4 linked regions of the Homo sapiens genome follow. The protein of the gene in region 3 purifies or fractionates together with the protein of the main gene of each other region. This does not show direct contact. Each region holds a gene or a part of one and is shown on either strand. Other genes may lie near its edges. The genes, in order: TLE4, KCNAB2, MFAP4 and TLE3.

The links.
Region 1: the proteins of MFAP4 (region 3) and TLE4 purify together in Homo sapiens (co-immunoprecipitation; 2 studies listed by BioGRID and IntAct, with this or other methods). This does not show direct contact.
Region 2: the proteins of MFAP4 (region 3) and KCNAB2 purify together in Homo sapiens (co-immunoprecipitation; 2 studies listed by BioGRID and IntAct, with this or other methods). This does not show direct contact.
Region 4: the proteins of MFAP4 (region 3) and TLE3 purify together in Homo sapiens (co-immunoprecipitation; 2 studies listed by BioGRID and IntAct, with this or other methods). This does not show direct contact.

The regions. Positions count from the first base shown.
Region 1 is NC_000009.12:79,707,945-79,714,967, reverse strand, and holds part of TLE4 (transducin-like enhancer protein 4), read right to left. Parts: intron 6,851-7,023; coding exon 6,718-6,850; intron 6,376-6,717; coding exon 6,182-6,375; intron 5,346-6,181; coding exon 5,269-5,345; intron 1-5,268. UniProt on the Homo sapiens protein: Transcriptional corepressor that binds to a number of transcription factors. Inhibits the transcriptional activation mediated by PAX5, and by CTNNB1 and TCF family members in Wnt signaling.
Region 2 is NC_000001.11:6,083,884-6,090,906, forward strand, and holds part of KCNAB2 (voltage-gated potassium channel subunit beta-2), read left to right. Parts: intron 1-1,320; coding exon 1,321-1,365; intron 1,366-1,371; exon of another isoform or gene 1,372-1,947; intron 1,948-2,274; exon of another isoform or gene 2,275-2,488; intron 2,489-3,583; coding exon 3,584-3,628; intron 3,629-5,124; coding exon 5,125-5,168; intron 5,169-6,505; coding exon 6,506-6,592; intron 6,593-7,023.
Region 3 is NC_000017.11:19,384,191-19,391,620, forward strand, and holds the start of MFAP4 (microfibril-associated glycoprotein 4 isoform 2 precursor), read right to left. Parts: upstream 3,001-7,430; 5' UTR 2,966-3,000; coding exon 2,960-2,965; exon of another isoform or gene 2,929-2,959; coding exon of another isoform or gene 2,851-2,928; intron 2,649-2,850; coding exon 2,570-2,648; intron 2,275-2,569; coding exon 2,120-2,274; intron 1,265-2,119; coding exon 1,168-1,264; intron 1,092-1,167; coding exon 909-1,091; intron 520-908; coding exon 272-519; 3' UTR 1-271. UniProt on the Homo sapiens protein: Could be involved in calcium-dependent cell adhesion or intercellular interactions. May contribute to the elastic fiber assembly and/or maintenance.
Region 4 is NC_000015.10:70,059,903-70,066,925, forward strand, and holds part of TLE3 (transducin-like enhancer protein 3), read right to left. Parts: intron 6,317-7,023; coding exon 6,112-6,316; intron 4,569-6,111; coding exon 4,552-4,568; intron 748-4,551; coding exon 628-747; intron 1-627. UniProt on the Homo sapiens protein: Transcriptional corepressor that binds to a number of transcription factors. Inhibits the transcriptional activation mediated by CTNNB1 and TCF family members in Wnt signaling.

The sequences.
Region 1 (7,023 bases), on a different chromosome or scaffold from region 3:
AATAATAAAGCTCTAGTACATACTTATTATCAGATTTCGATAAACTCTTTGACTGTAACTAGCAAATACTCCTGGAAGGTATGAGGGAAGTCAACATTGCTAGGAATCAGAGAAACCGAGGCGCAAAGGGCTACTCTGTTTCTAACTAATTTAATGCACAATGTGTTAAGTACCTCCCATCCATATACTCTGACGCAAACGTCATGCTAAGGATACAAAACTAGGTAATGCACCTGGTCTTGCCCACAAGTGACTAACAATCTAGTTAGCATGATGAGAGAAAAGTACAGAAATGACAATATCAGGTCACATTCTAATGGAAAGTATTCTGAAGTGTTTTGAAAAGGAAAGAAAGTTTATGTTGGATGAGAGACAGACATGGTAATAGAGATGGGTTTTTAAAGAATGAAAAGATACCATCGAGTAAAGAGAAAGATGGAAAAAATATTCCAGATAGCAAGAATAGCAGAGAGCAAAAGTTCCAAAAGGATGAGGTAAAATGAGCTGGGAAATCCTTGAATTGGTTTTAATCCAGGAATTCATTCAATAATAACTACACAGTAGGTGGATGGAGGAACTGGCCAAGCATAGTCTGAAAAAACATACCAGATCTATATCTCTATATAATTAAAATCAATGTAATGCTATAAAAGGGAAGGACCAGAATGCCAGCCTGAGACCTTCCCAGAATTGACTGAAGAGATTTTTGAGGGATAAAGGGAGTGTGCCATTACTGGGCAAAGCTATTCATAAAATAAACTTGGTAGCAAGGAGTAGGATGGACAGGAGGAATTAAAAACAATTATTCCTGTTGGGCGCGGTAGCTCAGGCCTGTAATCCCAGCACTTTGGGAGGCCGAGGGGAATGGATCACTTGAGGTCAGGAGTTCGGAGACCAGTCAGTGAAACCTCATGTCTACTAAAAATACATAAAAATTAGCCAGGTGTGGTGGCGCATGTGCCTGTAATCCCAGCTACTTGGGAGGCCGAGGCATGTGAATCATTTGAACCCAGGAGGCAGAGGTTGCAGTGAGCTGAGATTGAGCCACTACACTCCAGCGTGGGTGACAGACCGAGACTCTCTCTCAAACAACAACAACAACAACAACAACAACAAACAACAACAATTATTCCAACAATTTAAGTAAGAGGTACTGGGGGTCCTGAACCAGGCAAGGGCAAGGATGACAAGTTAGAAGGTACAATGGATATAAAATCCTGTAGGACTAAATTGACGAGATCTGAGGAGGAGCTAGAGTAACTGAGTTTCTGAGCTCAGGAAAAAAGAAACATGGTACTTGTAGTTAACAAAAAAAGGGCAAACTGGGAAGAGGACCTAATTTACAAAAGTACTTTCTGAATATAATGAATTTGTGGTGCAAGTAACATACACCCAAGATCCCTAGCTAAGATGCCCAACAAATAACTAGAAATACAGGGCTGGAGGGAGAGGGTGCAGGGAGTCAGAGAAATAGAGTGACCTGACCTCCTCTCAACACGAACACACACACCACAGGTTAAGCTGCTACGAGCAGAGTGGCTCTCCAACAAACATGGCGATGAGAATAAGAGACAGTTGAAGAAAATGCTAGGCTTGGACTCTCTGACATAACTACACTTTAAACAATCCAGACACATGCAATTTGCTTTTTTAAAAACATGTGTGTCAAACTTGTTATATATGGATTATCATCTTGACAAAGACCCAGCATATTTAAAGAAGGTCACTGGCTTTCCCACCTTCCCCTCATTCTCCTCTCTGAGGCCCAGTTCTGTTATGCTGTGCTCATCTCTCACGCGCACAGTACCTTCTCCACATTTCCAATGTGTCACAAGATGGGCTTCGACCTTGAGGTCACAATGAGAGGTCTGGTTATTGTATTTTACATTGAAATACGATAGAAAATTCTGTTCTAAGTAGCATACAGACCAGTGAGTTAGCCAACAAATACTCGTTGAAGGTTTTTACTATGTATCAGGCATTATTCTCATTTGAAAATCTTGCTTTATAAAAATAAATCAATGCAAAAGAGTCAGATTTCTGAATTGTGAGCAGCCTATAATCCACTAACGTGAGATCTTTTATTTTTGCTGTGTTCACATGTCACATCTCATACAATTAGTACCGTGATGTTAATCAAATAGTTATACACTAGCCATAGAAGTCTCATTTGAGTAGCAGGTGAAGGAGAAGGGCCATTTTTGGCTTATGTTGAAATTAAACTATGCTGTTATTCCAACTACATATGAAGTAGAACCTCTGCTAATTCACCTGAGCAGACAAGAGGATTCAATGTGAATTATACAATAAACACCATTTTATTAATTTGGAACATGCATTTAATTATAATTTCTGATCATATCTAGCAATTCATTGTGTGAAATAATTAGAACAGAGACACATAACTTTTATAAGTCTTTCTGGAGAAAGGTAGTTACATTGTGGGTATGTATGGTGGAGGAAGACTTTAGGTGATTTTTTATTTTATTTTCTAGCACACTTAAAAAAGTTTTGTCTTGAAAAATATGCACAAGACAACATTGCACAATTCAGTATCTTATGATCTGGAGAGCCACATAACTGTTATATTCATTTCTGCTGTAAAAATCTATAATAAAAGTATATTATCTCTGTATGCATATAAGTGAATGTAACTTTATACGTCTTCATGCTCTGTTACATAAAGACACACCAATGACCCATCTTCTTGGGTCACTTCTGCCCCTAAAACACAATGTACCTCCTACTACATAAGTAGCTGAAAAATGAATAATATGCTGGGACAAAGCTGAAAGGGAAATAATGCTGGGGTTGACTAAACAGCCACCATGTAACAAATGTGGCACTGAATGAACACACAACATATTATCTTACTTCCTATCTTCACATCCTTCTTGTTGAGGAGGGGCCATCCCTGATTCATGAATGAGCTGATTGAAGCTCACAAAGAAATTGTGCATAAAGCCACTCTTCTCAGTGGTTCAACTGGCAGAGTCTAAATTCAAACTTGGATCTGTCACACTCCCAAAACCATACTCTGTTGACTGCACCACATGCTTTTTAGTAGTGTCATTTTCCTGGTAAAGTGTCATTTGCCAACTGCAGTAGATGTGACTCTGTCACTCTCATAAACAAAAATTCTCAACAATCCTCCAATCCATTAACCCACCCTAAAGGATCTTAAACATTTAAACATTTTATAACATCGAAAGTTAAAACTGATGAAGGGAAGTCAGCCCAAGACTCAGAAGCACCATCTGAGTCAGAGCAGCTGTGATTCCACAGTGGTTTAACTGGTCCAAATCCCTTAGCCAAGGTGTTTCCTTAAAGACACTTACACCCCTTGCCCCTCGAAGCAGCAGCTGAGGCAAGAAGCATCATCTCATTTGCTCTAGTGGTTATGCTGTAGCTCTGGGTACAACTGTTGGTTACCTAAGAAGTAACCAAAAAAAAGGGATAGTACTTCTTCCCTAAAGGAACCCTTCCACTTTCCCCACAAGTTCATATGGAACTTGTAGGTATCTGAGTCATTATTTGATTAATTGTATAACCTTGTTATTTAGCATTGCTTGAAATAGACCCAACTTTCACCTTCAAATACATCAAAGTTTCTTGGTCAATAAGACTTGTTAGTCAACAACTATTTGCAAAACACACACAGGTACACAGAATTTTATGGTAATTGATATTTATACCTTCAACTCTTGAGGAACTCTAATTTGTCTTTTCTCCCCTATTAATCAGCCAAATATTTACCAAGCAACTTGGCTGTGGAGCCAGCACTGTGCTTGATACAACAAAGGAAGGTTAGGATAGAGTCTGTAGAGAAGTATTAATATGCTACAAAAGGAAGAACTGAGATTTGGATTCCTCAGATGGAAAGTAAAGAAAGGGTCTAGGTTAGGCAACACTGAAGGGATGTGGGGAGAAGAGGGCACGCAATTAACACCAGGGTGAAAACTAAGTGCCCGAGTGTGTGGGAGTGAATAAACAAGCAATGGGAGGTCCGAGAAGAAAGAAATCAGCACATATCCATTCCCTGAATAAATCCATACCGTGAGCACCACTATGAACCAGGTACCATTCTAGGCAGTGAGACTGCTTCTATAACTGAATAGCAGAAAGTTCTGTTCTGTTTTCATGGAACTTATAGTCAAGAGGGAGAGGCAGATAATGGCTATAAAAAAGCATTAAAAAGGTAGTAGAAGAGGAAAGAATAGGGAGGAAGGGAAAGAGGGATAATAGGGTTGTCAGGGCAGAACGCTCTGACATAATGACATCTTAGATAACTAAATGAGACACTAAGCCACAGAAAGTTTTGCAGGAAGAAGGACAGTAAGGACAAAATACCTCAAGGCAGGCAAGCTACCAGGGAAGCCTCTGGGAGAAGGCGCCTTGAGCTGCTACTGAGGGTCAGGTCTGGATAGCCCTGGAGACTGGGGAGGCAGCACATACACGGCATGTGTAGTGACAGAGGGGATGCCCACAGAAAGAGTGATGAGAAAAATGCACACACACAGGTGACTAACAAGGCAAGGAGGATCTGCGGGGGAGGCTTCCCAAAGGAGAAGCGAGAGAAAGCAGCCAGCTGGGATTTTAAAGAAACAGCCAGTGCTACTTTATAGTAAAATCTTTGTTTCTGGGAAGATGAAGCCAATTAGCAGAGACAACTGTGATTAGGTAGTAATAAAAAGGTGCATTAGATTAAAATAAAGTATTTGGAATGAGATCCGTTCAGAGAAGGCTAGAACAACTGGTGTGTTGTGTTTTGTCTTTCCTAACTCAAGGAATCTGTGAATACAGAGGCTCCAGATGCCCAGAGCACGGTATAAGAAGCCAACTAAGCAAGTCACCTTTTCTGAAAACAGAACTAAGCATAAGAGTGCCCTTATTTCCTTTCAGCCTTTGAGGTTTGGCATGTCTTTTCCCAACATATTCAAATTTTGAACATTCAGGTTTGCACATAATAATCAGACTTTTGGAACAAAGAATTGCCTTGAAATCTGCAACAGATGTAGAGAAGACCTGACTACTGGAGATGCCTCTGCAATTTGCATTTACATATTAAAGCTCAAAATTTTACAATGCAAAACCCCACTTCATTACTTCTCTTCTTGTGCTAAGAGAAAATGAAAAATACCTTGCAAGGTAAAAAAATACAAGTCATGGGAACTCCCCCAACACTGTCTAGTGGTATTCTAAGTCTACGGGGCCAGCAAGGGACCTGAGTTTGACACACAATGAGCACAGAGGCAAAAAGGTACTCACGGTTTTCCTCCTGGAATGCCTGTCAGGTTTGGAGGTATTGCTGGCACACGCATGTGATGGTGTGGATCAAATCCCACCTAGAATTTTTCCCAAGCAAACAACAGAAATAAGCACAGTTACATTTGACTTGTTTTATCCTTCTCAAAATCTATTCTAAAACCTGGGAGAATAGATCCTTTAAAAATAAGGTTTTAGAGATATATACAGAAGTATTTATTGGTGAAATGATAACCAATGTTTAGGATTTAATGGTAACATACTTGGGGGTGGAACACAGATTAAAAAATTATACTAATGATTATTGAAGCTCATGGTAGAACCAAAGAGTCATTACATTCATTATACTATGTGATCTAATTCTGTAGGTTTGAAGTTTCCAAAATTAGTATCATTTTGGAAAATTTAAAATTAGTATTCTTTTAAAAAGACATATAAAATAAAAAAGAAACTTCTTCACCTTACAAAAGAAAATGGACCTCAAGATTATAATCACATGTAGCTTAACTTATAAATACCCACAGATCTCTAAATACCTTAGATTATATAAATTACATTAAAAAATAGATAGGCCAGGCATGGTGACTCATGCTTGTAATCCTAGCAATTTGGGAGGCTGTGGCAGGCAGATCATATGAGGCCAGGAGTTCGAGACCAGACTGGGCAACATGGTGAAACCCTGCCTCTACAGAAAATTTTAAAAATTAGCTGGGCATGGTGGCGCATGCTGTTTTTTCGAGCTACTTGAGAGGCTGAGGTGGGAGGATCGCTTAAGCCCAGGAGGCAGAGGCTGCAGTGAGCCAAGATCATGCCACTGCACTCCAGGCTGGGTGACAGAGCGAGACCCTGTCGCAATCAATCAAGCATGACAATCCTCCGTGTGCTAAAATATTATTTGTGAAGCTCACAAACGCACCACTGGTGATCTCCCATAGGCAGCAGCAGCAGCGGCGGCGGCAGCAGCTGCGCTCATCTGAGGGGAGATGTTGTGGAGCCCAGCGTAGGCCGCTCCGGGGCTGGTCAGCTCTCCGTTCATTCCAGCATGGGGCACAATCCCAAATGGAGTTGGATATGGACAAGGTACTGCCATTGGGGTCCTTAGGCTTGAGGCTGCAAACCAAAATGGATGGAAGAAAAATGAAGAACACAGGAAACAACAGTGAAGACATTTGTAAACATGTCACAAAATAGAATCTATGGTTCAAATGAGCTTATTTTAATATTCTCAAAAGTCATTCAAGCCTTCAGAATTCACTCATTCACTTTGTTCTATTGAACACTTACCATGTGCCAGACAAGGTTGGTCCCAGGTGCTCGGTTCAGGTTAAGTAACTTTGTCTAACAGCCATTCAATGCTGGTCATTAGCACTTTTAATGTACTGTACTCCTTAAATTGCTTTAAATTCTTAAAAACGAGCATAAAAATATAGAAAAAACTTTTTTCTTACTAACCCAAAGGGTCAACTCCTGGTGGTTTTCCAGGTACAGGCCTCAATCCGGGAGTAGAGTTACTGCCTGGGGTGGGCGCATCAGTTCGTGGAGTAGGGGTATTGGACTTTGAGACGGGAGTAGTAGATTTTTCATTCTAACAAGATGAAATGACATATACCAGCAATTAGAACATGGTTTTAACAATGACGTTAAACAGTAAAAAGGTAAAGAAAAGGAAAGGAGGAAAAGAAATGGAAGAGGTTCTTCAGCTTGGGCCTTGATTTTCTTTAATAGAAAAGTTAACAAAGAAACAAAAGAGTTCCTTGA
Region 2 (7,023 bases), on a different chromosome or scaffold from region 3:
GAGCCACAAGCCACAGGCTTAGATAACTCACTGTCTGCTGCTCCTCTGCCCCAGAGATCGCTGCTAGCTTTTCTCTCTTCCTCCTCCTTTCCTGATCCCCAAATCAGGGACCAAGGAATAAAAGGAAGAGGCCTAGGGCTGAGTGAATTTTCTGTGTGTCTTGACCATAAATGAGGAGCATTCAGAGCGCATGCTAAACAGCTTGCAAATCAGAGCCCATTATTTCTGAGTGGATGACTCAGGCGCTTTTATAATTGGAATGTAGCACAGAGTATGGATCATTCTCCGTCTGTTGTTTTGCTCAGAAACATTTTGCTACAAGCAGAAAGTTCTTCAAAGTTAATCCAGTGCTGCAGTGCCAGGCAAGGCTGGGACGGCCGCCCATGCCCCCAGCTGGCCTGGGTTTGGTGCAGGACCCAGTGATGCCAAACAGGACAGACAGTGGTCCGCCTAGCATCTGACTCTGCCGTTCAGTGCAGGAAATGAGAGGGACACGTGCACCCACACACATGCACACATGTATACACACACATATACACAAGCATGCACAGATCTGCTGGAAATCCAGCCCTTGACCCTGAGTACATGTTGATTGTCTCTCAAAACAGAGCGTGACTTGATGAATAATTTACCTTTGAAAAAAGATACTTGTCCCGGCGCGGTGGCTCACGCCTGGAATCCCAGCACTTTGGGAGGCCACAGTGGGCGGATCACTCGAGATGAGGAGTTCGAGACCAGCCTGGCCAACATAGTGAAACCCCGTCTCTACTAAAAATACAAAAATTAGCCGGGCGTGGTGGCAGGTGCCTGTAGTCCCAGCTACTTGGGAGGCTGAGGCAGGAGAACTGCTTGAACCCAGGAGGCAGAGGTTGCAGAGAGCCGAGATCTCGCCACTACATTCCATTGATAGAGCGAGACTCCATTTCAAAAAAAAAAAAACAAGATACTTCTCTGGAAATTTTGCCCACCTAATGTTGCCAGGCATTTTCCCTGGTGAATTTTCAGCTGACTAGGAAATGGGATGCTCGACAGCAGCTCCTTCCTTCTGTGTGAGAGCTGGGGCCGCCACTGCTTAGACACGTGTCTGCAGGGGAACATGCCACAGCCATCCTAGTGGGGGGCAATAACACAGCTGCTCCCACTCCCTCGGGCCAACCCTGTCTGTGGAATGAGCTACTGAGCCAAGGCGGGTGTTAACAGCCTGGCTCTCTGGCCCCAGTGACATTTTCACAGAGGGAACCAAGTGGCCAGTGGCCACAGTGGGTCTGGGTTTGATTTTTCTGTTTGGCTGTGATGAGAGCTCGGTGTCTTGTTTTGCAGGGCTGAAGTGGTACTGGGAAACATCATTAAGAAGAAAGGATGGAGGTAACGGCCCTGCTCTCTGCGGCCTGTCCCTGGGGTGGGTGCGGGCGAACTATCCCAGGGTCAGCCTCGTCGGCCTGTCGTGCAGTGTCGTAAGGCCCGCAAGTCCCCACATCTTTCTTGCTGGGAAGTGGAGAGGAAAATTCAGTTCTCCAAGAGTAGGAGGTGACTCTGCTTGAGAAAGAAGTTGAAGGGAGGCCGAATACACTGTCCACCCCCACCCTAGCCTGCCCACTCCGCCTCTGTCCCAACTCATCCACAGAGACCCAGAGCACCAGGGTCCCTGCTTGCAAAGTGTCAGGCCAAAAAGAGCTTGGCGTGAGAACGGGCCTGGGTACAGCAAAGGCGTGCTGCTACAGAAGATGTGGGTGCAAAGCACTTCCACTTCTTTGGCTGGAGCACTTAGGGTCAGGGGAGCCAGGGGGCCAGAGAAGGGAGTGGCTCAGAGAGCTTGGGGGCCTGGGGTTGGATCCCACCCTGCACCTTGTCCACAGGATCTTCGCGGCGTCTCAGCCTCTCCGGAGCTCACTGTTCCCATCTGTAAGAGGGTGTGTGTGGGACCGTTCCGGCAGGGCTATCCTGAGGGTCAGTGGCCCCAAGTCTGTAAATCACCCACCCAGCTCAGGGCGGGACGTGTCACACTCCTCTGGGAAGTGGTCCCCTCCAGCACAGACCGGGGAGCGGTCCCCGGGTGTGATGGAGCCCAAAGGTCGCAGATCGGGGGCCATCCACCCTTCTCTCCCAGGAGCCTATGGGCCCTTCCCAGGCCAAGGTCCTCACCCACCTTGGGACCAACTGGGCTGAGCACTTGCCTACATTTTGAGGCTCCCCAGACCCCTGGACACAGCTTTATCTCAAGGTGCTGACAAGCCCCGGGGCCCTGTTCCTTAATAAATGCGTCTTTATTTTCAGAAACATCAGAAGCAGTTATAAAGTTGGGCCTCCCTCCTCCCTCCCCTCGAAATGCCACTCAGAATCCCAGTGCCAAGGGGAGCCCCCGCCCCCTCCCCCATGGATTCCTGACACCCCTTCCTCTTGTCCCATCAAATTTGTTTTTTGGCAACTCTGATCCCAAAACAAATTCCTCCTCACCCTGTAATTAAACGAAATTGCACGTATTAGCAAATCCCCTGATCACGTCTTTGGCGAATGTGCATGGAGGTGGTGTGGGGTGATCCCCCTTCCTGGAGGTGACGCTGCCTCTGCCAGAGCTCTGTGGCCGATGCTTCGGGGCAGAGGAGGCCTCCTACTCCAGCCTCGTGAGCTGCTTCCCTGAGCAGCCCGGGACCCGGGTGGGAAAGAAGCTCAGCCATGGGGCACCAGGAGGTCATTGTCACCCCCTGGGTGGGAAGTACTCCCTCCTCTGGGAGGGGTCAAGGTCAAACGTGGCTGGGAGGGGCCATCATTATCCCCCATCCCACCAGGACAAAGCCACTGGTATGGGCATTTGTCTCGTGTGGACTTAGAGCAGAAGAACGAATTACTTCCCTTTGCGCTGCTCAAGCCCAAATCCTCAGAATTCTCTGCCTCAGCTACTCAAACCCAGAACCCCACTGGCCTGGCCACACTTGGGCTCCCTATGCCTCCCCTCCCTCCTTTGGTGCCCCCCAAGTTACCCCGACCAGGCCGTCCTTATGCCTCCCCTCCCTCCCTTGGTGCCCCTCAAGTTACCCCGACCAGGCCGTCCCACACAGATTTTCTGCAACACGTGTCACATTCTGTAGGGAACGTTGCAGAGAGCTTCCCTGCCTGCCTCCCACCTACATCTTTCCATCCTCAACTCCTGCCAGATCCCCCCAGAGCCCGCCCCTGCCCCCTGGCCCACACCCGGCCTCCTCCAGCCTTGGCTCTTGCCACTTCCTCTACCTGGATCAAATCCATGCACCCCTCATAGTCCCTGAGCCAGGCCCCCCTCCCACATCCTGGGCGGAAGGCATCTCCTCCGGACTCCGGTCACACTAGGCCCCCCACTGTCCAACTCCCACTGCCTGACTCACAGTTACTGCCTCGGTGGCTGCCTCCTGGCTCCATGAGGAGCCCACGCACCCCGGCTGGGCACGTGGTACACATCATATGATGGAGAAGTGCCCATTTCATGCCCCAGGCTCCTGGGTGGGAGGGCTTTCAGGACCTCTGTGTGAGAGATGAGGACGTCGGGGATGAAGGAGGACCCCCCAGGGGCCGGGCTTATCACACCCCTTCTTTCTCTTCTGTTCCACAGGCGGTCCAGCCTCGTCATCACCACCAAGATCTTCTGGGGCGGAAAGTAGGTGCAACAGCTGGCGATGCTTCCAGCCCCGGCCCAGCAGCCACGGCCCCGTGCTCCCCAGAGACCCCTGACCTAGAAGGCTCCTGGGGTGGCGGGAGGACAGTCCTCCTTGAGAAGGGAGAGTGGTCGGGGTCTGTCCTGGACAGGCCCCGGCCCAGTGCCATTTCCTGTCCCCAGCAGGGGCAGAGCTGGTGTTTCTGCAGCCATCAGCTATGCCTGGTGCCTGTCCCTGTTAAGGGACGTCAAATCCAGAAAAGAAGCTGTGGCCGAGTTTGCCTTTTACAAAAACCTCGCTTAACTTTCCTTTTTACTCACATGGATTATTTTTTCCTGGTCACTATGGTAACATCATAAAAATTATAGAGAAAACAGAAAATTTGTGAACTGCCCAAACCCCCAAAGCACTCCAAATTCCCTGGGCCGCCTGTCACCCCTGCAGGTCTCCAAGTGTCTAGCTCCATAGTTTCTGGGCTGGACACACTTGGGCTCATAGGAATTATAACTACGATTCATTCATTCATTCTTTTTTTTATTTTTATTTTGTTTTTATTTTTTATTTTTTTGAGACAGGGTCTCGCTTTGTAATCCAGGTTGGAGCGCAGTGCCACAATCACAGCTCACTGTAGCTTCAAACTCCTGGGCTCGAGCGAGCCTCCCACCTCAGCCTACAGGGATGAGCCACCATGCCTGACTAATTTGTCCTTTTTCTCTCTCTCTCTTTTTTTTTTTTTTTTTGAGACAGGGTCTCACTTTGTCACCCAGGCTGGAGTACAGTGGCGTAGTCCCAGCTCACTGCAGCCTCAACCTCCTGGGTTCAAGTGACCTTCCTGCCTCAAGTAGCTGGTTCTACAGGCACATGCCACCATGCCCAGCTAATTTTTTTATTTTTATTTATATTTTTATTTTTGTATTTTGTAGAGATGGGGTTTCATCATGTTGTCCAGCCTGGTCTCAAACTCCTGAGTTCAAGTAATCTGCCCACCTCAGCTTCCCAAAGCACTAGGATTGCAGGCGTGAGCCACCACGCCTGGCATTAATTTGTCCTTTTTTAAGATATGGGGTCTCACTATGTTGCCCAGGCTGGTCTTGAACTCCTGGGCTCAAGTGATCCTCCTGCCTTAGCCTCCCAAAGTGCTGGGATTACAGGCGTGAGCCACTGTGCCCAGCCTGATGTGTTCTTAATTTAAAAAATAATAATAATAATAATAATAATAATAAGTCCAAATCAAACAGACGGGTTAGGTTGAAAATCAAAGCCCCCCACCCCCTGCTGCTGCCCCCCTCCCCTCTGAGCCCTGTGACCAGGCCTCTCCCTGGGCCTCTGGGAGTTCAGCCCTGTAGCCTCGGGTCCCTACCCCCAAAGTGGAATCCGACTCCACACGGCATTTGCTGACCCTGTTTTTGCGTCTAACATTGCATCGTAAACGTTTTTTGGGAGGGGCCAGGGTGCCAAAACCGCTGGTGACATCACACGCGGTCGGCCTGTTTTCCAGGGCGGAGACGGAGCGGGGCCTGTCCAGGAAGCACATAATCGAAGGTGAGGACGCGCTCGGGCACCTCAGGGCCCCCATACCTGTGGGATCATCCTCGGAGGCCAAAGTGATGGCAGCACAGGGCCCGACCCCCCCAGTTAACCCACTGAGGGCCCAATCCCGGGGCACCCGGTGCTCTGGCCTGACCTTCTCCTTCCACCCAGGTAGCACAGCGGGACGCTGCAGAGAACGAGGGCAGCCCGGTGGCTGAGCACAGACCACAGACCAGCCTGGGTTTCAATCCAGGTTTGGCCCCACACTGGCTGAGTGGGTCTTCAGCAGGGGCACCCTGCCCCATGCCTCTGCCACAGTATCTGTGCAATAGGGACAGTAAGAGCGCACCCGGCGAGGGTGGCTGGGATGCCTGCAGCGCCCAGGAGAAGGTGCCACACAGCCCGGGGCTCAGCACTCGCAGGCACCGGAGCAAGGCACCGGGGTGTCTGGCTCTTGCTGTATCTTTATTGTCTTCATGCCTTTCCTGTCCGTGTTCATTTTCTTCGAGGTAATAGATCATTCCATTGAAAATCACCTGGCGGGGCAAGCCACCCACTCCCATCCTCCCCACCCCAACCCAGCGTTTCACTCTGCCGGCTGTGTGTCCTGAGCTGCTCTAAGCACCAGCGGGTGGCTTGGGCGTTTTAGACACTATTGCCATTGTTTTTGTTTTTGAGATGGAGTTTTGCTCTTGTTGCCCAGGCTGGAGTGCAGCGGCACGATCTTGGCTCACTGCAACCCCCACCTCCTGGGTTCAAGCAATTCTCCTGCCTCAGCCTCCTGAGTAGCTGGGATTACAGGTGCCCACCACCACATCTGGTTAATTTTTTTTGTATTTTTAGTAGACACAGGGTTTCACTATGTTGGCCAGGCTGGTCTCAAACTCCTGGCCCTCAAGTGATGCGCCCGCCTTGGCCCCCCAGAGTGCTGGGATTACAGGCATGGGCCACCACGCCCGACCATAGACACTATTGCCTTTGATGGGACGGGCAGCAGGTGTAGCCCTCCCTCCACATGTGATAGATAAAGTCATCTCCCTGTTGTAATACACAGTGGCCTCAGAGGAGGGTATATTGTCTGAGGGAGGAGGGGCTTCCCCTTCATTTAGTCAAGGACACGTGGCCTGTGGTCCCCCGATGTCCTCCTGAAGGGAAGATCCCCCCACTCCCTGTGGGATGTGCCCCCACCTCTGCCGTGGCATTTCACGACCTCCATCAGCTTCTGGAAGCTTCCAGATGCCAGAGGCCTCTTCTCCATCTCTTGTTCCCTGAGCCGGGCATGGATGGGCCCAGGTGCCTGTGGAGATGGAGCCACAGCAGTGACGCCCCCCCACCTGGTCCTCCCCCAGGTCTGAAAGCTTCCCTGGAGCGACTGCAGCTGGAGTACGTGGATGTGGTGTTTGCCAACCGCCCGGACCCCAACACCCCGATGGAAGGTAGGTGGTCTGCGGCGGCGCCACCGGTTAGGCCTGGGCGGGGTCTGAAGGGTCTGAACCTGGGGTTGTAGAGGCCGCCAGCATGGGCCCTGCTGGGCACCCGGGTGAGCCGTGAGAGGAGGCCGGGTCCAGGGTGGGGGGCGAGGGGGCAGGCCTCCCCTCAGTAGGGGGTGAACTCAGCCTCTGGCTGCAGACCCCTCGCCAGGTGCACCTGGCACCTCCAGGCTGAGTCCCTGTCCTGGCTTTGGACCCAGGCCGATCCGCCCTCCGAGTCAGAGCCGCAGTGGAACTGTCCCCTCCCCTCTGCGGCTGCTATTTTGCAGCTAAGTGAAGTCGCAGTGTGGGGACTCCAACTGCGGTGTTCTCTCCAATCACCATCCATTGGGAAGCTTGGGGGGACTTTTTTGCTCTGGGGGATAAATTACTACATA
Region 3 (7,430 bases):
AGCCAGGTCCAGGCTAGAACCATGTGCCTCTCGGAAGAGGCCTGGGGAACTGCTGGCAGTGTAACTTCAGGTGTAGGGGAGCCGGGTCTGGCTTAGGAATGGATGCCCTGGGTGTGTGACAGGGATGTGGCATGGCTGAGAGCCACAAGGCCCCCTTGTAAGGAGTTGGTGCTCGGGAATCAGCAGAAGCATGCATCAGGGGCAGCAGAGGGAGCACTCATGGAGACCATGGGTGTCCAGGGGAGGAAAGGTGCCTGAGGGGGCCAGCCCTTCAGGCCCGGCGGATTTTCATCTCAGTGCGTTTGAGGGAGTAGTAGAAGCCCTTCCACTGGGCCCAGTTGATGCCATTGGCATAAGAGAGGTGGGAGCCACCTAGGTAGAAGCCATTGAGGTTGGCAAAGTGGCAGCTGCGGAACCAGAAGGCTCCTGAGGAGAGAGCTGCGCAGTTCTGCACAAAGAGGTCCTGGTCCCGGTCGAAGGTAGAGAACTTCTGGCCACTGTGGTAGGACAGGGAGTCACCTGGCAGAGGAGAGAAGGGTTGGGGCTGCTGAGGCAGGGAACTGAGCCCCGAGCTGGCCGGGAGAGGGTGACAATGACGACTGTGAGAGATATCACGTGGCAGCCTGGCGGGATGGGGGCACCCTCCCTGAGCCAGATGTTGGGTTGATGTGCTTCTGCAATGAAGAGAAACAGCTGCTCCACCACAGAGTTGCCTGGAGCAGGGCCAGGATGGCTGCTCCCCAGGGCTGAGGCCCAAGCTGGTTTGAGCTTGTTTGGAGCCAGCTGTGGCCCTTCCAGATCCAGAAGGGTTGAAGGAGGGGCCTGAAGGAGGTTGGGGCTGACTGGGCAGGGCCAGCCCTGCCTTCTTTCCCCTCACAGCCCCTCCCAAAGCTAACAGCGGGTTATACCTGCCCCGCCATCCTCAAAGCCTGCCACAAAGAGGGTGTAGCCATCCTCCTCTGCGCTGACCGCGTTCGGGGAGATGGAGAAGTCAGCGTACTTGGCATAGGCCGTGTTGTTCTCAAAGTCCTCCAAGTCCACTCGCAGCTCATACTTCTGCTTCAGTGTCAGGAGGTGCATGTTCTGCAGCCCTGGGGAGGAGGGGCAGCTGGTCAACAAGGACCTGGCCCTGGGGCAGCCCCTCAGCCCACCTGGTCCCTGCCTTACCCAGCCAGTACTCTCCATCAGCACGGCCGAAGCCCAGCTTGTAGTCATTCCAGCCGCGGAAGAAACTTACTGAGCCATTGAATCTCTTCTGGAAAACCTGGAGCAGAGAAGATGAGACTGGATCATCAAGGGTCCAATGGGCAAGGTTCTGGTCCTGCCCTGCCCACCTCAAGCATGGACCCTGTGATGCTGTGGCCAGTTTGTTAAAGGACTGGGTTGGGGGTGGGGAGGGTGGTGGGAGTGGGGTTGCTAAAACAACGTCCACATTGGCACCAGGCCCCCTGTGGAGCAGTTGCCAGCACCCACCTGGGCTCTTCATACCCAGTTTCGTATAGAGGCAGGAAAGAGGCTAAGAGGGAGGCGTTCTAGAGTTCGAGTGCCTAGCTGTGGGATCTGGGCAAGTTACTTCACCTCTCTGGGCTTTAGTTCCTCACTACTTCCCAGGATTATTGTGAGGCTTATGTGCATTAACCTACCTCAGCTGGGCGCGGTGGCTCACGCCTGTTATCTCAGCACTTTGGGAGGCTGAGGCGGGCGGATCACCTGAGGTCAGGAGTTCAAGGCCAGCTTGGCCAACATGGTGAAACCTCATCTCTACTAAAAATAAAAAAATTAGCTGGGCATGGTGGCACATGCCTGTAATCCCAGCTACTCGGGAGCCTGAGGCAGGAGAATCTTTTGAACCTGGGAGGTGGAGTTTCCAGCAGTGAGCTGAGATGGAGCCACTGCACTCAAGCCTGGATGACAGAGTGAGGCTCCGCCTCAAAACAAACAAACAAACACCTACCTCAGGCACTTAGAATTAAGCGTTGGCAGCTGCTCAGAAGCTGTGCTGTGGGTATCATTATCCCCATTTTAAAGATGAAGAAACTGAGGTTCGCATATGTGAAGCCCAGGGTCACAGGGCTGGGATTAGAACCAGCTCTGGCCTCTGTTCCCTCCTCCCACTCACCGTCCACTTCCCGCCCTCGGTGGTCATGTCACAGAAGACGGGCACAGGCACACTGGGGCCCGAGGGGTAGATGAGGTACACGCCGTCTGACTGGTAGCCCTGGGCATAGATGTCGTCACAGTCCAGGGGTTGCTGAAGGCAAAACCTCTCCAGAGCTGGGGGTAGGGACATGGGGACAGTGAGGAGAGTGGGACTATGGCATCACTGACACCTCAGCACCCCAAGGTTTGCCTCAGTCCCTGGGGCTGGGGGACTTTGACACAAGGAGTCATGGAAGATTTCTTCAAGGGAGATGAGCAATGCTTATGTCATCCATCTGCCCCATTTTGTAAAGGAGGAACCTGAGTCCTGCAGAGCTGGGGCTCGGCCCTGACAGTCTGTTCTGACAGTCCAGCCTCTTCTTGCACAACCTGTGGGCCAGGCCGCGTCTGTGAGTGTGGGGCTGCTTACCATCTCCTCGGATCCCGGAGACCTGGGGGGCACACGGGGGCGTGGAGAGAAGCAGCAGCAGCGGCAGGGCCAGGAGTGCCTGGCGATGGGCAGACAGGGTCAGCACAGCCCCTTCCCAGCTCCAGAGATCCCCTGTTCTCTTTGCATTTGCCCCCACCATGCATGCACATACTGCCCTTGCCTGAATCCCTCTCCTGCTATTTGGCCCCTCTTCCCTGCCCCCCCACCCCGCCCGCCAAGTAACCCCACTCTCTGGGACGCTGTGTACCCTCATAGCTTACGAGTTTCAAGAGAACTCCTTGTGCCTTCATAGTGCCCTCTGTGGCCAGGGGCCTCTGGAGTGGGCTCAGTTCCCCCATGCTATGAGTCCCCCGACCCTGGGCCCCGTACCTTCATGCTGTCAGTTCTGCTCAGAGTGGCTGGGTGTCTGCGGCCCCAGACTGCAACCGCCCAGAGTTATGCGCTGGGCCCCCGCCAGCCGCCCCAGCCCCGCCCCCCTTCCCGTAGCTGCAGAACCCCCCTCTCCCCACCCCAGACAACCAGCATCAGTTTACACTATCAGGGGGCTGGGAGGTGGGGCTGGAGCCAGGGGACCACCTGTGTCTCATTAGTCCTGTCGGGCAAAGTACTGCAGACGTTAACTCCCTGCTGGCTCCAACTGTTCCCTGGATCCCACTCCATCCGCTATCCGCCATCTGCCACCCACCCTGCTAGACCTGTGGGCCCCCTGGCGCCCCCAGGCAGCCCCAGCCCGCCGCAGCCTGCCCCCTACTTCCTGATGGGCCCCCCTGCAGATGTCTGTTTATTCTTTCCCCTCCTTCCCTGGCCTGTGTTTCATCAGCCATTGAGGGGGAGGGCTGAGGGAGAGTGGGGGTGTCATATGCCTGGCTTCTGGGGACGGGAGGCCTGCTCTGGGGGAGCAGAAGGCTGAGGGGACAGTTTCAGAGCTCCTGATGTGGGAGCCTGGCTGGGGCTGGTGGGGGGACAGAGGCAGCAGTTTCTTGGCAGGCCTGGGACATTTCTGAGCCATGAGCACAAGGCTGCTGGCGTCCAACTGCTCTGTCTGCCCCAGCTCAGGCCAGGGCCCCTCTCCAGTCCCCCTCCCCAGCCCCCCTCACTCTGGCCACCTCAGGCCCACTCTTTTCCCCTCCCACAGTTCCCTGGCCCATCTGGCTCACATGCAATAGGTATGGGACCTCTTTTGTTTCTCCTCACTCCACCCCTCCTTTCTTCTTCCAAACCCTTCACTTTGGCTCCCACACCTCCCAGATTCATCTGAATCTCCCTACTTCTGGGCTCTCTCCTCCTATCCTTGGCACACTACCAGGAGAGTTGTTCTAGATGGCCTCTCAGATTATGTCACCCTGCTTAAAGCCTCATGGCTCCCTATTGCCTCAGGGCTGAGGCTAGGTTTCTCACCTTGGACATGAAAGGAATTTCAAGTCTGTCTCTGGCCTACCTTGAGGACCTTGTCCCTTATTGCTGTGACTCATAAACTACAGTGCAGCCACTCCAGACTTTTCACCATGGAGGTCCCCACTCTTTTGTGCTGCTCCTTGTGGTGCCCGCTCATCTGCCTCCTTTTGTTGGCCATAAGGGCCAGTGAGCAGGGTGTGTGTCTCATTTCTGCATGCTCAGTGCCCATCACAGAGCCTGGCACAGAGTAGGCTTGATATGTACATGCACAGTCACTTACGTATTTATATCTATATATAGATAAGATACTAGAGTCAGGGCCTTGCCCTGTTGCCCAAGTGCAATCATAGCTCACTGCAGCCTCAAGCTCCTGGGCTCAAGTGATCCTCCCACCTCAGCCTCCTAAGGAGCTAGGACTACAGGTGTGCCACCACACCCAGCTAATTTTTTAATTTTTTTGTAGAGATGGGGGGGGTCTCCCTATGTTGCCCAGGCTGGTCTTGAACTGGCCTCAAATGTTCTTCCCACCTTAGTCTCCCAAGAAGCTGGGACTACAGGGCCAGCACACCTGGCTCACAGATATCTTTTGAGCGCTGTGTGCTATAGGCTATGCTGGCTGCTGAGGATACAGTATCTGCCCCACAAGGAGTGGCAAGCACAGGTTTTGGACAGTGAATTGCAAATGTAAGGTGTATTACAAAAGGACATTTGTGTTGAATGGATGAACAGATGAAATATTCAAAGGCAAAGTGATGAGGCAGCTCTGGCTTAGGTCCCATCTCTCCACTCCTGAGTCAATAGATAAGCCCCTTGGCAAAGCCCCAGTTGGCCTCCCTGACTTGGTTCTGTGATTGCCTCTATTCATAGTTGTGTCTTGTGTCAGGCTACCTCAGTTCAAATCTAGATTCTGTTGCCTGTTAGCTGGGTGACCTTGCAAAAATTACCTAGTCTCTCTGTGCCTTGGTTTCCTCCTCTGTAAAATGAGGATAGTCATAGTATCTACTTCATAGGGGTGTGGTAAGGATTAAGTAATACATATCAAGTTCCTAAAACAGTGCCTACAAATGGCAGCTATTTAGTAAATATTAGCTATCGTCATCGTCATCATAAACATCATGATTCTCATATGAATGGGTTGTCTTCAACACAGCTTGTATGCTTGCCTGTGGAAGAGACAGTTGGCTGGCTCTCAATACTCGTTCTTCCCTTAGTCCTCAGTAGTAAGATCCTGATTTTTATCTGGGCTCATTGTCCAGCCTCCCTTGTAGCTAGGTGAGGTCACACATCTGAATTTTGGCCAACAAGATGCCAACAGGTATGTTGTAAAGGTAGGTGGCTTGTCCCTCTTCATCCTGCCCTCTGTCCTGCTGGATGTGATGGCTGGAGCTCTAGCTGCCACCTTGGACAGTGGGGATGAGGAAGATGAGGCCTCATCAGGGAATGGCAGAGGAGGAACTGGCAAAGCCTCTCACGACTTTGTGGAGTCGGTACAAAAACAGCCCTGGACTGCCCTCCTCTAGGCCTTTTTTATGCAGGAGAGAAAGAAACTTCTATGTATTTTAAGTGTCTGTTGTTTTTTTTTCTGTTACACACAGCTGAATCTAATCCTGATCTCTTCTTTCAGCAAATGCCAGCTAATTTTAACACAAGTCTATAAAAGGGAAAATAATGAAAAAAAATCAGTTATCAAAACAAATACTAAAATGGTCCAAAGTCAAGTATTGAAGACTTTTGGAGAATACCACTAATGAGCAAACATAGAAACTCCTTCTCCCCCTAGAAAAGAGAGAATTAAGATACGAGGTATCAATTACATTTTGCCAATTAGTTTTTACTTAAAAAATGCAATAATGTGTGTGGGTGCAGCAAAGCAGGCACTGTGTTCACTGGATGTGGCTGGAAATTAGTTTAACTTTTGTGGTAAAGAAATTTGGTAATAACATGCCCAGAGTCGGTAATCCTTCTAAGGTGTTGTCTGGAGGAAATACTCTGACATGTTGAAGAGGCTACAGATACAGCTGGGGGACATTACTTGTTGGCTGCCCAGCATGGGAAACCTCTTCCCACATTTGGGGTGTTCCTCTCCTAACTAGAATGCTGGGTGTTCACATTTCCAGGGTTCCTTGCAGTTTGATTGAAGGCACATGGCCTTGGTTTAGCTGATAAAATGCACGGTCCTGGGCTTCATTTTGGGAGAAAGTGATTTGAGAAGCAGAAGCAGGAAGAATCCATTCCTGGGGCGATGGTGACCCCAGTGCTGTCTGGGTCCTAGTTTCTCTGGGTGGTTGGTGGTGGCTTGGCAAGCACAGTGCTGAGTGACACTGGCTTAGGCTTAGGCTGCAAAGCCCTGAGCTTGGTTCTCAGCCCTCCCAGTGATCAGTTTGCTCTGCCTGCTGATGTTTTTGAAAGAGACCCCCAACTCACATGCATAAAGATGTTTGTGTCTAGATTCTGTCATTGCCAACAACAGACACTAACTCTGACTTTGTTGGGAGGCTTTGCTGGGAGTCTAGACTAGGGGTGGGTGGGAGCTGAGGCTGCCCTGGGCTCTGGAAAGCAGGCCCTCAGTGGGGGTCCTGTGGTGGGACAATGTTGGGTTGATGCTGCTCAATGCACATGGCTATGGCTTTGTCTGTCTGCCAGATTCCAGGAGTGAGGAGGGTCCATCCCATTGGCCTTGCTTGGGTAATTTTATGCATCCCTTGGCAAGGGGAGTGCAGTTGGACACCTTTCATTTGCCTCCCCACCTTTCTCCCTACTGCCCTGGGCCCCGGAAGGCCAGCCTCACCCTCTGGTTTCTGATTGGGTCCAGCCAATGAGGAGCTTATCAGGATTCAGCGGGAAGGAGAATGAAGTAGGAATATTCATTCCCCTCCTTGTAGAGTCCCCACACACTGGTTTTGTTTCTCAGCCAACAGTCTCAAGTCCTGCCAGGTAGCCATCTCCATACAGCCTCCTGACTCACTGTGGGTGACTCCTTCCTCCTCTGCCCGCTTCAGGTCTAGGGGTGTTGACAGCCCTGGTGTTACCAGCCCAGAGATAGGGGGCCATCTCCTGCTTACACCTCAGCAAATAGTCCTTTTATTAAATGCTACTCAAATTGTCCTAACCTGAGTGTTACTTGATGGAAACTGGACTGATTCAGGGAGAGAGGCATCCCTGACTATAATACAGAAAACGAGTGTGAGACTAGGAGGAGAAGTGGCTGCAAGTGTACAAAAAAGTCTCCACTAAATACCCTCTGTAATAGTCATTGTAATGTATGCTGTAATATTGTCAAACCCAGATGGCTCAGTAAAAACAGATGACCCCCTGTGCTTCCTCGATGTCATTTTGGTAAGACATTTGCTCAAGTTGGTATGGCTTCCGCCCCTGGGTTAGGCCTGTGCTGGTTGTTCTCTGCGTTCCCTGATCCACCCACATCCTCCTCTGTGCCTGGTGTGGG
Region 4 (7,023 bases), on a different chromosome or scaffold from region 3:
TGAGTGTCCTTTGGGTGCTCAATGTGTCCAAAGCCACACAGCAGCCATGTGGCTGAAGAGGGCTGGGTGCAAGACCGCTGAGGCCCTGCACCATATCCTCCCCTTCCCTCTGTCCCAGCTCTCAGCCCTGCACAGCCTGACACAGGGGAAACACAACAGCCATGCTTCCACTAGGGTCTCACGTGCCGGGGGCATCCCATTAAAAGGCTAGTAAAAGCCATGACTGGGTGGCCAAGTGAGTGCATGCCTCAGGCCAACTGAGAGGACTATAGGGTCCACATTTTGGGGGTCACTGGGAGCAGCCCCTTAGAGCCAAGTGGGATTCCGGCAGCACCATGACAGCAGCATGGGGTTGTTGGCCTGTCTGTGGGAAGAGACCCCATGGAGGCTAGGACGACCTCCCCATCCACCTCCGCCCCACAGTGGCTCGCATGCTCATAGCGTGTGTGAACTTCACCCTAGCCCTGTTCCCACCCTGCTCTCCTCAATAGGGTCCCCTATCGCCAACCTGTGCTTCTCTGACTCACTGCCAACCACAAGAAGACCCTGGCCACAGCTTGGGCCCTGCAGACACCCCCTGCCCTACCCAACAGAAACCCCAGTGGTGCCATGGCGCCTTGGACGTACGTATCGGCTCAAGCTGTCCTTCTCCTCCGCCTTCCGCTTCTTGGCTTCCATGCTGTAGTCCGCAGAGCCCCGGTGCTTCTCACTGGCCCGGAGGCTTTCCGAGGGTGACACAGAGTTATTCTGGAAGGAAAAAGAGGGTTCGGGGTTAAAACTTTCTGCTGCGTGTAACAATTCACACATCCGCACACAGCTAAGTGCAGGTGACACGGAGGTCAGGGGAGGGAAGAGAAGCTGAACTCCTCTCTGCCCTGCAGATCGTGGCTCCATCAGAGCCTTGCCAGGGAAGCCTTCCCCACTCCCCTGAGACTGAGTCCCCGGGGAGATGCCCTGGGCGCATCCCCAATTCTCTTTTGCAGCTCTGCACTGCTATTAAATAATTAACCCTGCAGTAAGCCGTCTGCCTTCTGGCCTGTGGGACTACGCTCTGTGAGGGCGAGGGTCACCTGGGTCTCATTCACCACCCATCTCGCGCTTGCCACACTCATTTGCTCAAAGGAGGGATAAGTGGAATTTGCACTGAGTCTTGTAAGATGGATCTGAGCTGACAGGCAGGGGCCATGAGCAATACTTCATTTGCTGAGCCCGACAGGAATGGGGAGATTGATAGGGAAGGAGGGCGTCAGGCAGCCACCAACTTCCCAGTGGAGATGAGCAGCCAAGCGTTCTGTGTGAACACCCCCGCCTCCACGGTGAGGCTGTCAGCAACTCTGGAGAAACACCAGGGTTGTAAAAAAAACAAAAATGCCACGTCATGAAGCCTTTCCCTCTGACAGACAGGGAAAGGAGCAAGGGCAGGGACAGTCACTGCCTCTGTAGCCATCACCAAGTGGAGACCCCAAGAGGTTGGTGAATGTGCCCAAGCTCCCCTAGCAGAAGGTGGCACAAAGGGAACCCCAAAATTTCGTGAGTTCTCCCTCAACTATAAAGCAAATGAGGATGAGAAGCCTTTGGGATGGGAGGCCTGGGAAGAGGGAAGATGACGGAGTAGTCCTAGGGGTTGATAGTGGTCAGAAATCACCATGTGGCTGTTACCACCGAGCTGGGGAGCAGGGAGGGAAGTGCAACTGGCAAGGGCACCTGCCAGCAAACCTCTGTGCCCAGAGACTAATATCAGGACCAATGCCCCTCTATGATATTGGTGAGGTTTACTCCTTTCTAAGAGTCCAAACTTTACCTTCACCCACCCACCAATTTCCGAGCAGCTGCCCTGGGTCAGCCCTGGTGCTGCAGGCCAGGAGTGGCAGAATGAATGAGATACAATCCCTGCCCTCCAGGAGCTCATGGTCCAGCTATGATGGAGCTGGAAGAAAAGGACAGGCCATCCCAGGTCCCAGTCCCCATGCAACACAGGAGGTCATATGGAGACCCAGAGGGACATCTGTTCAGAAGAGAAGAGCATCAGAAGGCAAGTGGAATGAGGCTTCCCTTCTCTTCTCCACTTTCCCAGAGGCCAAGCGTGGCTCAGGGGCAAGGGCCACTTGGAGGGAACGGGGCTGGGCAGTATTCGGTGGGAATAGTGCGGCAACCAGCCTCAGAACTTAATTTCCTTTCCTAAGCCGGGTTCTGGGCAGCCCTACCCGGCCAAGTTTCTGCCCGAAGCAAATTAAAATGGCAGAGTTATCAAGCCTTGAAGAAAAAATGGAGGTTATAATGGAACTGCAGCTCAACCTTCCCCACAGCCGTGCAGGAGCGGTGGCGATGCGCGCACAGCCACAATTCAATTAGCTGCTGCAATCGCCGGCAGAAAAATCACCGTCATTTCATTTCATTTCCTCTGACGGTGGTGGCCACCCTGTGCTAAGCAGAAATGCTTCCAGCCCCTCGCACTGGCTGCCCCTTGCAGGCGGGCGGGCAGGGGAGGGGGCGTGCGGCTGCTCGTGTTTCTCCTCGCGACCCGGTGCTCGGCTCGGGAGAACAGCGAGCTCTTTCTTCTCATGCAGTCAGGCTGAAAACCCTCGCCGCTACCGGAGAGTCATGTCAGGCATTTAGCGGCATCGATCCAGCCCGCCTCTGGCTGGCAGGCGGCCAAAAAACTAAGTATTTTTTATTGCTTCGGCTAGGCAAGGAAATATGAATGAAGCTACCACTAATTGGACTCCAGACTAACCCCTCTGGGACAGCTTCCAGCCCGTCCCCCCATCCCCCCTCCCACTCTGACACAGCCCTGTCCTTCCTGCCGTAGGCCTCATCTGTTGACAACCTGGTTTCCAAAGCCTGATTATTTCAGTCTACACCGCCGCTGACACCGTCACCACGCCACATGCCATGCGCACAGCCTCGGCCCTGCCCACTGCTGCCTCTGCCCAGCATCTTGATTCATTCCCACTGGAGTTTCCTGAGGCCCATGTGTGCCATGCATGGACCTCAGCGAGCATGGTAAACAGCCCAGCTCTTGGGGGTTCCCAGGGGGGGTCTTTTAGCAGAAAACTTTCACAGATGGGGCACAAAGCCAGAAGCCAATAGGGATGAGGATGAGGTAAAGACTCATGCTCTTTAGAGAGTGCTGGGCTTCCCACTCCCCCTCCAATTCCACTGAAGTGGGTCCCTGCTAGCCAGGTAATCTGGATCCTCAGTCAGGTTATAAAGGGTCTTCCGAAACAAAGCTGAGAGGTTGGTCAAGCAGGAATTATTCCCATGGTATGGATAAGGAAACTGAGGCTCAGAGAGGCCAAGAGAACTACACAGGGCCTCATAAAGCTGGGACCAGACCTCAGCCTTAAAATGTCCAATCCAGGCCTCCGCCTATCTAGGCAAACTGCCTCTCCGAAAAAATGCCACTGTTAGAGGATCAGTACCGAGGCAGTGAACATGGATTTTCAGCTTCAATGACTCCTCTCTTAGGTACCTAGCCATTCCTCAGCCCAAATGTGGTCCTGGATTTCTGAGCATGTAGGCGGGTCAAGAGGCCACGGACGCCAGCCTCACTGCTAATGGGAGGTTTAAAAAGTCAGCCTGGGTAGGGGGAGGGCCAGGAAGGGAAGGAGGGCTGGATTGGAGAGAGCTGCGCAAGGAAGCTGCTGTCTAGATGGTTAGTTAACTGCCTGACCTTCCAAGTCCTACTTAACACGAGGTAATAACCAAAGCCATCCTAACAGATTAGATGGCCCCAGATACAAGGACAGCGATGAGGAATAAAATAGCTTTGCTAATCGCTGGAGGATTTTTTTTATCCAGACTCCACTGCGCTTATTCAGAAGGCTTATTCACTTGAAACAGAACCTCGGAGCCTCAGTGTGATCAGAAAGATTTACAACAAATCTCAGAGCTGGCAGACACGCAGGCGGCCTGGCCTTAATGCTCGCCTGCTAGCACTTTCTTAAATCGAGTGAAAGCCCAGAGCAGGGAGAAACTGCAGGCGTTTGAAGGGAATGAGGAGGATGCAAGATCATACAGGAGGCATCCTAGCAGGGGGGTGGTAAAAACCTTGGCCCTGAACATGGGACACCTGGGTCCTTAGCCCTGGGTTTAGCCCAGAGACTCCACAAAGCCCCTCGCAATGGAAGATCCAGGGCTGGTCAGCTGACCTCTCAGAGTATCACCTCTCATATGAAACGGAGTTAGAGCTCATTTAGCCCAAGCTCTTCATTTGACAAATGGCAGACCTAAAGCCTGGAGAGAGGAAGGGCTTCCACAACTGAAGGTCACTCTCAACAGGTGACGACAGCAGCTCCCATTTTATGACAGTAGCTACCCCTCACCCTGCCACTGGCTCTGGACTAAGACATCAGCACTGAAGCTCCCAGCTCAGCAAGAGTAAACAAACAACAAAATCCCTAGTTACAACCCACAGAGCAGAAGCGGGAACCCAGAAGCCAGCTTTGGATACCGACTGACTGGTCTCAGGCCCGCGATTCTGGGAGCCCCGAGTCCCACCTCCTCCCAGCACCCAAACACCCCTCCGGGTTCCAGAGTGCCAACACTTACCGCACTGGATTCTCTCTCTTTGGGGAAAGAAGGCCAGGACAGGAGGAAGGTCAGGCACCCCAAAACAAAAAGACAAAAAAGAAAGGAAAAAGGTCAGTCTAAGTCCAGCTGGCTTTTGTGATTTGCTAGTGCACTGGTTTTAAAATGAGCAGAAGGCCTGGATTGCTGTCTCCGTGGATCAGCCAAGGCAGGGCCATTAGGTGGCGTTTCTCGGTTTGGAAATTTGCCACCCAAATTCCAATGCTGCCCCCACCCCTCTAGTCCCCAGGGTGGGCAAGGGAGGCCCAGTCCCCAGGGTGGGGAGGGTAGGCCTTTGACCCAGTTCTCCCTGTCATGCCAGAGGGCACCAAGTTTACTCTTTAGCAGGCTAGGGGTCTTAAGATCACAAGCTTGAGAAGGATCATGCCATATAAAATACCAGTAGGACCTGGGAGTTAAGAACTTTATTGTTAAAAAAAAAAAAAAAAAAAGGAATTTAACAGTGGTTTAATTTTGTTTTTGAAATTAACACCATTCTGTGATTCTTTGTCAGGATGCCCCTAAAAGCTGAAGCCTCTGAAACTGTGCCCAGCTAAGCACTAGCTCCCCAGTTCTCCTGTCTGCTATGGAGAGGCCCCTCTTCCTCTGCCAAAAGGACCATCCTACTGTAAGACAAAAAAATGTAGCCTCCAGTTCCCTGGACCGGCTACCACCCTGTGGCCTGGGCCAAGGCAGGATGGTGACATTCCAGGTCCCTAGTGCTCAGAAGGTGTTGGCTACGTGCCCCAGTAAATACCGTATCTAAGGGCAGAGTGCATTTGGCACCAATTTTTGAAAAGGGCCTCCCAGGGAGCCAGGCTTTTCTCTTTTCTGATCCAATGAACCACTCCTGAGGCCAAGCTCGGTGCAGCTTCATGGGTCCTCATGGTAGGGGCTGCAGAGAGGGTCAGAGAACAAGTTCTGACTCCAAGTCTATGTGATCTCTTGCTGGGGTGTGCACTACCCCCACTTACAGGCAGTCAGCTAACAAACCTTTACCTGAGCACTGACTGTGCACCTTTCCCAGGTTTCTGCATTGGTGAGACATAGATGTAAGGAAAACACCCAAGAACTTGGCACCTGTCCTAGGGAACTAATGATCGTGGTGAGCACAAGACATTTTCCAGGGGTAGGATGTAAGACGACAGTAACAAGGACTCAACTTTGGCATCCCAACTCTTAAACTCTTACAGGAACTTGAAAAAGCCCCTAGTCTGACCAGGAAGGCATCCTGAAGGGTTGGACTGGGGCTGGCCCCTGAAGGACAGGCAAGGGTGTTGTAGGAAGATGGGAGCGAGCTCCAGATGAACAGACAGGGTCTTCAGGACAGAGAATACCAGGTCCACACCAAGGAGTAGGAAAAGGTGCATGGGATGCGGATGGCATTGGCTTCCCTGCACCAGGTATCAACAGATGACTCCAAATCCTTGGTAACTCCTGGTCTTAGGACGACAGCACTTGCTGGGTCCACTCACTGTGAGGCCTATGAGCGCCCATGCCCACCCCTGCCCCGCCCCACCCTCTGCCCCAGCCCAGCCGCACCTCTGTGATCGAGTTCATGGTGGTTCTTCTCATCCTTCACCGTCAGATGGGCCTGGCTGCCCAGGGCGCCCAGTGCCAGCAGCCCGGAGCTGCTCCCTGTCACTGGGGGGATTCCTGGAGGCTGGAGACCTGACGGGTGGGGTGGCAACTGGACCGGGGGGCCGTGTGTGGCATGGGAGAGGTGCTGCGCCTGGAGCTGCTGCTGCTGCAATGAAGTCGGTGGTGAGTACAGCTGAGTTGGGGAGGGCAGGGGAGGCGTGGCCACCTCAGGAGGGAGGGAGGGAGTGGCTCTTCCCATTCCTCTTGCTCCTTCACTGGGTGGGTGGCAGGGGGAAGCACCCCCAAAACCTTTGCCCCCAGCTCAGTTCACATGAATGTCTCGCTGAAGGAAGTCTGTTAATAGACTGTAATGTAAAGATTTATGTCTTCAAGCACCCCCCAACTCCCTGCACCCCCGTTTCACAAATAATTTCTCAATGTTTGTTTCCAAGCCTGAGATAAAGAATGCATGCATTTAAAAAACCGCAGAGTCATGGGGTTCCCTCTGAGTAGAGAGGGATCCATTTTTAAGCTCACAGCCCTGGCAGTGTTTGCTCATGCATACATGCCTTCAGCATTAGCTGCCAGCATCTTCCACCCTGAGGCTGGACCCTGGGGAAGGCTCCTTATTTCTTAGGAACTCCAAGCCTGCCTTACAGAGCAGGGGCAGGGCAGGTCATCACAGCAAAGGCCCCAGAGCCAGATGAGCTGGGGGCCAGTGGAATGAGAGCTAACGTCACCGGACATCAGTGGTGGAAAACGGGGTAACTGGAAGAGTGGAGGCTTTGGAACTAGACAGAACAGGATTGAAATCCCAGCTCTGGCACTTCCTAGCTGTGTGGCCTGGGGCAGGTTACTTCAAGTCCTGGAGCC